Regions from separate parts of the Homo sapiens genome. Here region 1 is linked to region 2. The links come from fine-mapping of genetic effects on gene expression. A gene starts in region 2. The other region holds a variant in brackets. All regions are shown on one strand. Distances are from middle to middle.

Region 1 (4,391 bases), 81 kb after region 2:
CTGGAGGGCAATGGTATGATCATAGCTCACTGCAGCTTTCAATTCCTGGGCTCAAGCAATCCTCCTGCCTCAGCCTTCTGAGTAGCTACAGATGTATGCCCACTGTGCCTGGTTAAGGAGTACTAATTTTTTGTTTACACTTTTTATATATTTATTTTGAAGTGTTTATTTAGGACAAATGGTTTTTAAAAATGTATAAAAATAATTCACATATAAATCCAACTTCTATATTTACATGGTCCCTTAAAAGATTTTCATTTTATTATCATTAAAAATGTATTTCAACAATCTCCACAGTACTCTCAAAGGTCAGGAATTTTAAGATTTTCTAATAGAAAAATTTTAGTATTTATCTACAGAAAAATAATGAAACTAGGAATTATATCGTATTTTAAAACATAATGTCTCAACTATGCTGTGCCACATAAGAATAATCTTCACACTAAACTATAATAATTCCAAGTGCTGGCATTTTCGTTTATGAACAAAGCACAAAAATATCTCATAGAAAAAAATATTTCATCATAAAAAACATAGAAAGTTGAATGCTTCAAACAAAAATATCTGAGGTCTGATTTCACAACATCCAGTTTCCATATCCACTTTGTAAACATATACTCAGTATAGGTTACCAACTTAAATAAAGCCTGTTATCACTGAAAGAAGACATAGTTTAAAAAAAATTCAGTGCAAAAATACGCATTAGCTAATCAACTGATCTACAACAATTTTCATGAAAATCACAATTTGAATCCCATAATATAAAGTGATCCTCTAAGACTTTAATTAAAAATAAAAAGCTGTACAACAGCCATCAAGTTTTCTTTTGTTACTATTCTCTAGTAAATGCTTTTTTTTTATTAGCTTTTACAATGTCATCAGGTGATGCTGATTTGAAGTCAAATGGTATTATCGCTACAAGAGGACTTATTTCTTTGTCCTTTACATCTTGAACTTGTCTACTATAAAGAAAAGTCTTACAGAGGTCAAGGGTGCGTCGCTTGCAGCTTTTTAGTGGGTAACGAAGACACAGTGTTGAGGCAAAAGCTGAAGGTCTAGCAGCAACGGCCTTGGTCCGAGACAGAGAAAAAGGTGGTTTCCTAGTCAGACAGCCTTTATTGTTTTTCTCATTATCCTTAGCAAAATTGGATTTCTTCCCTAGCTTTGAACTTAGAACTTTAGTTCGTGATGAAGGAGCAATGGATTGGTCTACTATAGGCTTTGGAAGAAAATCTGGGTTTTTTTTATAAGGACCCTAAGATCAATATTTGAATCTATTCCAGGAGACCTCACTTCAGATAAACTGACCTCAAAGGACTCTTTCTTAATCTGAGAGTTGTATACATCAATTGTTTCTGCAATCAATTCAGAAAGTGACAAATTCTCAAGGTCTCTTGTGGGAGAAGCTTTAGGAAATGCCAATGACAACATAGATCCTGTTAATTCTGATATTCCTGGTGAAGACTGACAGTGATTTGCTAATTGTGACAGGGGAAAGGATCCCAAACTTAGATCTGTGAAACTGACAGATGACTGGTTACAAAGGTCAGACAAAGTAAAGCACTGGCTTATATTGTTTTCTTTGTGTTCCCGAAACAGTTCAGTTAGGGATGGACTTTCACACTGGGAAAACTGCAAATTATCATTTTTAAAAATGTAATTCTTGGCACTTTGTTCAACTAAAGAAACACTTCCAACTTCAGTTTCTTTACTAGCATTTAAATTATCAACAGTCATATTTTCCAACAAGCTAGTTAAGCACAAAGGATTATCTGAACTTCCTAAACTGTCCTGTACTGGAATGTTTTAAAAATCAGATAGTGAATTACTTTGAATATATGAAGAATTATTCAGTGTTGTGCTCTTTATCATTATGGACTTTAAATCTGGTATTTCTTTGAATGCAGAATCATCTTTGGAAGCACATTCAGATGGATGAAGTCTCAACAAATCAGCATCTAGGTTCTTTGAAAGCAGACTTTCCAGACTGTCTGTAGATGACAATCTGACTGATGGCTGACTTTCACAGGAATCTCTTGACATATCAGGAATTAAGTTAGCTAGTGAAAGTTCTTTTGTTAACCTACATG[A/G]TTCTGGTTTCTTTTCACTTTTAAGTCTGTCAAGTTTCTTTTTCCTATGGAGTAAACAGTGACTTGGAACTGAAGAATTATGAGATAATCCATATTTTCCTACTGAGCTAGAAAAATCAAAGGGTTTGCTACTATAATCCAAATGATTTGCTAACTGAGGATAAGAACTTTGAACATTATCAGCTGAAACTTCAGAAGAAGAAAATAAGACTCCTTACCTTTTGCTATCTTTCCTGTAGATACTCTTCCCTCATTCTTGTCCTTCAAATTCTACATGCTATCTTGTTCCAGAACCTCTGACAAAGGCTTCTGCACATCAAACTTGTTCTTCAGAACTGATTCAATCAATATTTCATCTGGCACAGCATCTCCAAGTACTTTCTCTCATGTGATCAAGGCATGAATAAAAACGAGCTTGATTAAATCCACTGAGCTGATGGTTCGAAACATAATTGAAAGATTCTTTCAGATCTTCATGATCGTATTCTTCTATAGGCTCAACGGAAGGTTTGTCACGCTGTGAATAAATAAACTGAGCAGCTGTTGATAGCAAAATACAAGAATCATCCTCTACAGACTGGCCATGGTGATCATCATCTTCAAGATCTTCATCGCAGTCACAGCCTCGAACATTCCGATGCTGGGCCATGACGGTGGAGAGGGCGTTTGCTACAGCCCCTTAACTCCTTCCAAAACACTCCGCTTAGATACTGATAAGGTGCCAGCTCAGGAGTACTATTTTTAAAGGGGCACTTAGTTTGGCTAAAATCAAACTCTGTCTCCCTGTAGTGGGAAAACACTGAAATCTCAGGTCAGTCCTTTTTGCCTTGGCTTCTGGGTTGTTTGAAGTCTGTCCCATTCATGCATAGTTAGGGGTCAGCCAAGGATCTGAGCAGAGTTCAAACCTAGAATTTGGCCTCATTTCCTGGCTCTCTTCTTTCTAGAATTTCTCATTTCACTTTCCAGATCCTCTGGTTGTCCAGAACTCTGTCCTCCAGTTCTTCAAGCTAGTAGGATTGTATGTTCTAGCAGAGTTTCTGTCCCCACAGCATCAACTGAGGTTTGCCTTCAGGTGAGGGTCTATAGAATGAGAAATTCACCAGTGCCATTCCTTTCTTCCAGGTGTCAGCTGACCTCCAATTTCTGTTGCTCTGGTCACTTCCCAGTGCCTCTGGGTAGTTGTCTTTTTATACATTTTCCACAGTTTATAGTTGATCCCTGTGTGAGGGCTGCTCCAATGGGAGCGACTTGGCCATAACCAGAAGTCATGCCTTGCTTTCTAAATACTTATGGCCAAGGGAGAATCCCTTTCCTTTCTTCTATGGAGCTGTCGGGATCTCTGAAGGGCAGCAGGTGGCCCCGGTCCCCAGGCATAAAGAAAGCCCATCCACAAGAGAGCGGACGGTGTGGTGGCTCCACAAGCAGCAGGGACGAGAGACTGAGATGGAGCCTGAGGGTCTGGGAGGCCTTCCAGGCCCTGGATCTTTGCTCCTCACTCCTTGGACACCCTTAGCAGTGGGACTGTCACACTCAAAGGCCACTGTCCCTTCCCCAAGCAGGATGGCTTTTGGCTCTGTGGGGACTTCTCTGTCCCATGCTTCCGCTGGACTGCTCCTTCTTTTCATAGAACTTGTCCCCACACTGTGATTCCGTTGATCCTGTTTCACACACAGGCCCTGAGAGATCTGCATGCTGGGGACACTAAGTACTCCATACCTCTGAAATCCTACACGAACACACAATTTGACTCTTCCCACAGACGGCTAACCCTATCCGGTGGGTACACGTGAATCTGTGTGTGTGTGTGTGTGTGTGTGTGTGTGTGTGTGTGTGCGCGCGCTACAATTTGACGTTTAGCAGGGACAGTCTTCACTCCCTTCACTCCCTTTTCTCCGAGTGCTCTTCTGCCCCACACATATTGCTAACAGGCTTTCACTCCTGTTTATGTCTCTAGGGCTGAGCAAGTGCCTGCACATAGTGGGCCTGTGGGAACATGGGCTGGTCTAGCTGGAACAGACCTGACATTGAATCCTACGCTGCTTTCAAAACTCAGCTCGGGTGTTGCTGCTCTGGGCCAGCTCCTGGACTCTCCCAACTCTCCCTGGGCTGGGTCCCTCCCCTGGCTCCCTTGGCACCAGGGACTCCTGCAGATGCACTGATGGCACAGTGCTGTGCGCCCAGGCCTCCTCCCGTGTCTCCTCTGACAGGTGCGAGCCCCTCGGGAACAGGCACTGAGCCAGGCGGTGTGCCCTCAGCACAGGCCTGTGGGTCACGTGATGACTGGATGTGGAGGCAAGCTTC
Region 2 (4,391 bases):
GGCATGTCCCTCGGGGAGACACAATAGGCACCAATGATAGTGGGCGGATGAATACACCATCTATGTTAAAACTAGGAGCTTCTATTCATCCATGATTCCAGGAAAAGGGCTGGGCGCACAGATCACACCTGTAATCCCAACACTATGGGAGGCCAAGGCAGGAGGATCACTTGAGGCTAGGAGTTCAAGACCAGCCTGGGCAATACAGTAAGACCCCCATCTCCATACACATGCACAAAAATTAGCCAGGCGTGGTGGCAGCGCATCAGTCCCAGCTACTACAGAGGTTTAGGAGGGAGGACTGCTTAAGCCCAGGAGTTCAAGGTTAAAGTGAGCTATGATTATACCACTAGACTCTAGCCTGGGTGACAGAGTGAGACGCTGTCTCAAAAAAAAAAAAAAAAAAAAAAAAAAGGATTCCAGGAAGCTAAGTCAAAGTCAAAGGACAACTGGGAGATATTTGTAACTGAAAAAGGACTGATATCTAGCATTTATAATAAATAATAAAAAAGACACTCTTACAAAACAATGGGAAAAAAGAGAATTTAAAAGCAGATTTGAATATACAATTCTCAAAGCAGAAAACCAAACAGCAGGCCGAGTGCCATGGCTCACACCTGTAATCCCAGCCCTTCAGGAGGCTGAGGCAAGCAGATTGCTTGAGGTCAGGAGTTCAAGACCAGCCTGGGCAGCATGGTGAAACCCTGTAGTCCCAGCTACTCAGGAGGCTGAGATGGGAAGATCTGAGGTGAGGAGGTCAAGGCTGCAGTGAGTCACGATGGTGCCACTGCACTCCAGCCTGGTTGACAGCGCCAGACCCTGTCTCAAACAAAACACAAACACAAAAACAAAACACTCTGAAAAATAATTTGGCATGATCCTATGATCCTCACAATTCCACTCCTAGATGTTATACCCTAGAGAAATCCAAGATTCCAAACACCTGAACATATGACCGTAATGTAGTAACGGGATGATTTACAAGAGCACAAAAGCTAAGCGTGTCACTGTGGCAGAATGGATAAAGTGCCTCGTGCTCACAGACAGGAATACCACGCAGCAGTGAAAATTAAACTGCAGTCAGCTGCAACGTGGATGAAACTGTCACGGCGTCGACCAAAAAGACACATGCACGCCACACACAAAATACACTATGATACCATCACACTAACTCCAAATCCGGCAACCAAGCTGTGCCATTTAGGGGTGCATAAATAATTGCTCACACCGGGGAGATGGCACAGAAATGATTACCTTTCCAAAATGAGGAAGGGGAAAGGAAGAAGGCCGTGATTACCAGTGGGAGGCTTCCAAGGAACAGGCATGGTTCTACTTCTCCACCTGTGTAAGGATCACAGGAGTGGCTCGCGATGCTATTATTATTCGTTAAACTGAACAAAAATGCACTTTTCCATACATGTCATATCTCAATCAAAAGCAATTACAACCTATAATAGCTAATAATACATCAGTAGCCAGGAACGTTTAAACAACCATGGGGCTTCAATAGTCTGCAAAACTACTCGGTTTATTTCGCACGGAAAGCGATACAATATAAAGTTTAGGAAAAAAGAAAACAAACCTCACACACCCACTTATTGGAATGACGCAAAACGGCGTGTAGAAAAGAGTAAAACGGACACAGAGCGCTCCGGACGGCCGGGGTCTTTGCGAGGTGAGAACAAGAAAATCCAGTCAGCGGACACTGGAGCTACCGAGCCCAGGCCGCCCCTTCCTCACGCGGGGGTTTCTCTCGGGATCCCCGCCCTCGCCCAGGTCACCAGGGCTGCGTCCCCGACGGGAAACCCCGATGGGAGACCCCGCTGGGGCCGGCGCACCCCCGCTCCAAGAGTCGGTCGCTTCGGCACGGTGGGGGATTAGGGTGGTGAGGACCGAAGGCGGGGGAGGCGGGGGCGGGTGGGGATGAGTACCCGGGGGCCCAGGGAGGGGAGTGAGGACCTGGGGGTCGTAGCGAGAACCCGGGGCCCGGCGGGGAGGAGATTGAGGATCCCAGGGGAGGTGAAAACTTGGGTAGGGGTGAGGACGAAAAGTAGGGAGGTGAGGACCCTAGTGGGGGATTCCCAGGGGGCGAGGAGGGGCGGGGGGTCCTGAAGACCCACGGTGGGGATGAGAACCGAGGTGGGAGATGAGGATCGAGGCGGGGGATGAGGACCCAGGGGGAGGTGAGGACTGGAGGGAGGTATTCGGAGGAGCGAGGAGGGGGCGTGAGGGCGGGCCGGGGGGGTTAACAGTCTGAAGGGGGATGGGAAGGTTGGGGGAGGGAGCGAGGAGGGTCCGGAGTTGGGTGTGCGGGTCGGAGGTGGGAAGGTTGGGAATCTGGGGGCCGCGGGGCGCCACGCCTGCCTTACCTCGTCCACCGTGCGGCGCGGGAGGTGCAGCGTCCCGAGTAGCAACTTGAGCTTCACTGCCGACGAGAGGCCATGGAAGCAGAGACGGATGTTGTCGATGACCGCGGCCGTGAGCAGGGACGCGATGCTGGGCGGCGCCCACAGCTCGTCCGTGGCCCCCAGCTTGTTGTGCAGCCACAGGCCCGTGTCGCTCTCCCGCATGGACGCCATCTTGGGGGAAAGCGCGCGCCGCTGCCCCGGCATCTTATGAAGACACCTACGCGTCCCTCGCTAGGACCCCAACATGGCGGCGCCCGTCGGGCTGCGGGCCGCAGAGGCGGCGCAGGTGGCGCGGTCCCACGAGCGGGGCTTCCCGGGAGAGCGCTTCTGGGTGGCGACCGCGTCTCCGGGTAGCGGCCGCGTCTTCGGGAAGCTTTGTGGCAAAGCCGAGAGCCGGAAGGACGGGGTGCCGCTGAGCAAGGACTATCGGCTTCCGTAAAACATCATGGCGGCGCCCTCTGCTGGCTCTCGGGAAGACCGCAAAAAATGACGTCACGAGCAGGCGCGCGTATTCGCGTCTTGGGAGCCCGGGCTGCGGCCTGGCATTCGCAGTGCAGGTGTCAAGCGCCGCAGACTTGCTGCTCGCGCGGTGGGGCGGAGGCTCCCTGTGGCACCTGCCCCGCTGTCCGCTCTTCGCTTTTTCCCCGCTTGGGTCTCGGCGCGGACCGTGTGGACGCCCCGCCCCCGCGGGCCCAGCACCTGCACGGAGAGGAGCCGCGGCCCTGCGGAGCGAGCCTGCGGGATCCCGGTCGCAGCGCTGAGCTTCCGTCCCCCGCTGAGCCCGCTCTGCCCGTGGCGCGCCGCCGACGGGGCTGCGCTGAGCATGCGGGTCGGAGGGCGCTCGGGAGCTGTCCAGGGGCACTCGTGACCCCACAGTGCAGGGAGGCCCCGGCCCCCAGTCGGGCTGGAGCCGCCAGGCAGGAGCCAGTAGTGAACTTTTCAGTTTTAAAAGCTTGTCATTAGATACAAACATGAGTAAAAGTTAAACTTCATTTTATTAAATTCGTTTTACCCTTTTGTCTTTTTGACGAGGCCTTCCTATGTTGGCCAGGCTGGTCTCAAACTCCTGGGCTCAAGCGATCCGCCCGCCCGCCTCTGCCTCCCAGAGTGCTGGGGTTACAGGTCGGGGCCGCCTTGCTTGGCTTCTGTATTATATCTTTTTTTTAAAAGATCTTTTCCTTATTGTTCCACTGCCATGCTCCTGCCGCCGTTCACAGCTATTGCCACTGGGCGGTGGGAACGCCGGGAGAACAGGGCTCAGCCCAGCTGCTAGCAGTGCCCTGGCCCTGGCGGCTTGAACTTGGCAGTCCTGCGGAAGTCACACGGGGGAAACCCGCAAATGCTACAAATCAGTGCTGGAGCGGTGGTTTTGTTGATTGCTTAAACTGAAGAAAGTGATAGAGAAAATGTTGATGATAAAGATTAAACTTAAAACTGTCATGTCGACAACCGTTACATTGCAAATAGCACATAAAATTTAAGAGAATATTTTTTAAATGATTCAAAAGTGTCGAATTCAGCAAAGACAAGTTATTGACTAATGGGTGAAGTTGTGACATCAGTGGGGCTAGTGCTGAAAGAAGTTTAATGATTAGGCCGGTCACGGTGGCTCACGCCTGTAATCCCAGCACTTTGGGAGGCCAAGGCGGGCGGATCACCTGAGGTCGGGAGTTCGAGACCAGCCTGGCCAGCATGGAGAAACCTCGTCTCTACTAAAAATACAAAACTAGCCGGGCTTGGTGGCGCATGGCTTGCCTGTAAGCCCAGCTACTCGGGAGGCTGAGGCAGGAGAATGGCTTGAACCCGGGAGGCGGAGTCTGCGGTGAGCCGAGATTTTGCCATTGCACTCCAGCCTGGGCCACAAGAGCAAAACTCCCTCTCAAAAAAAAAAAAAAAAGTTTAATAATTATAATCTGAGGGTAAGAAATAGTTTAACAGTGGACGACATATCAAATTTAGTATGAGAAGAGTGAAAGTTACTTC

What was found. PIP is the estimated chance that this variant, and not a neighbour inherited with it, causes the effect. A credible set is the group of variants that fine-mapping cannot tell apart.
Region 1: its variant is the best candidate, but not a certain one, in a credible set for the expression of NELFA in whole blood (INTERVAL, PIP 0.68).

What each region holds. Positions count from the first base shown.
Region 1 is chr4:2,087,879-2,092,269 of GRCh38, forward strand. All of the region lies in intron 20 of POLN (DNA polymerase nu), which reads right to left. It also overlaps the pseudogene LOC100419959. Among named protein-coding and RNA genes, the nearest start is that of NAT8L, 31 kb to the left of the region's middle. The variant A/G (reference allele first, on the strand shown) is at 2,091.
Region 2 is chr4:2,006,381-2,010,771 of GRCh38, forward strand. NELFA (negative elongation factor complex member A) reads right to left here and starts at 2,594. Exons shown (of 11, transcript NM_005663.5): 1 at 2,370-2,594. The coding sequence starts at 2,579. LOC124900839 reads right to left here. Exons shown (of 4, transcript XM_047416543.1): 4 at 2,626-3,793. The coding sequence starts at 3,381. The coding sequence ends at 2,626. RefSeq lists enhancers at 2,277-2,777, 2,385-2,904 and a silencer at 2,965-3,344.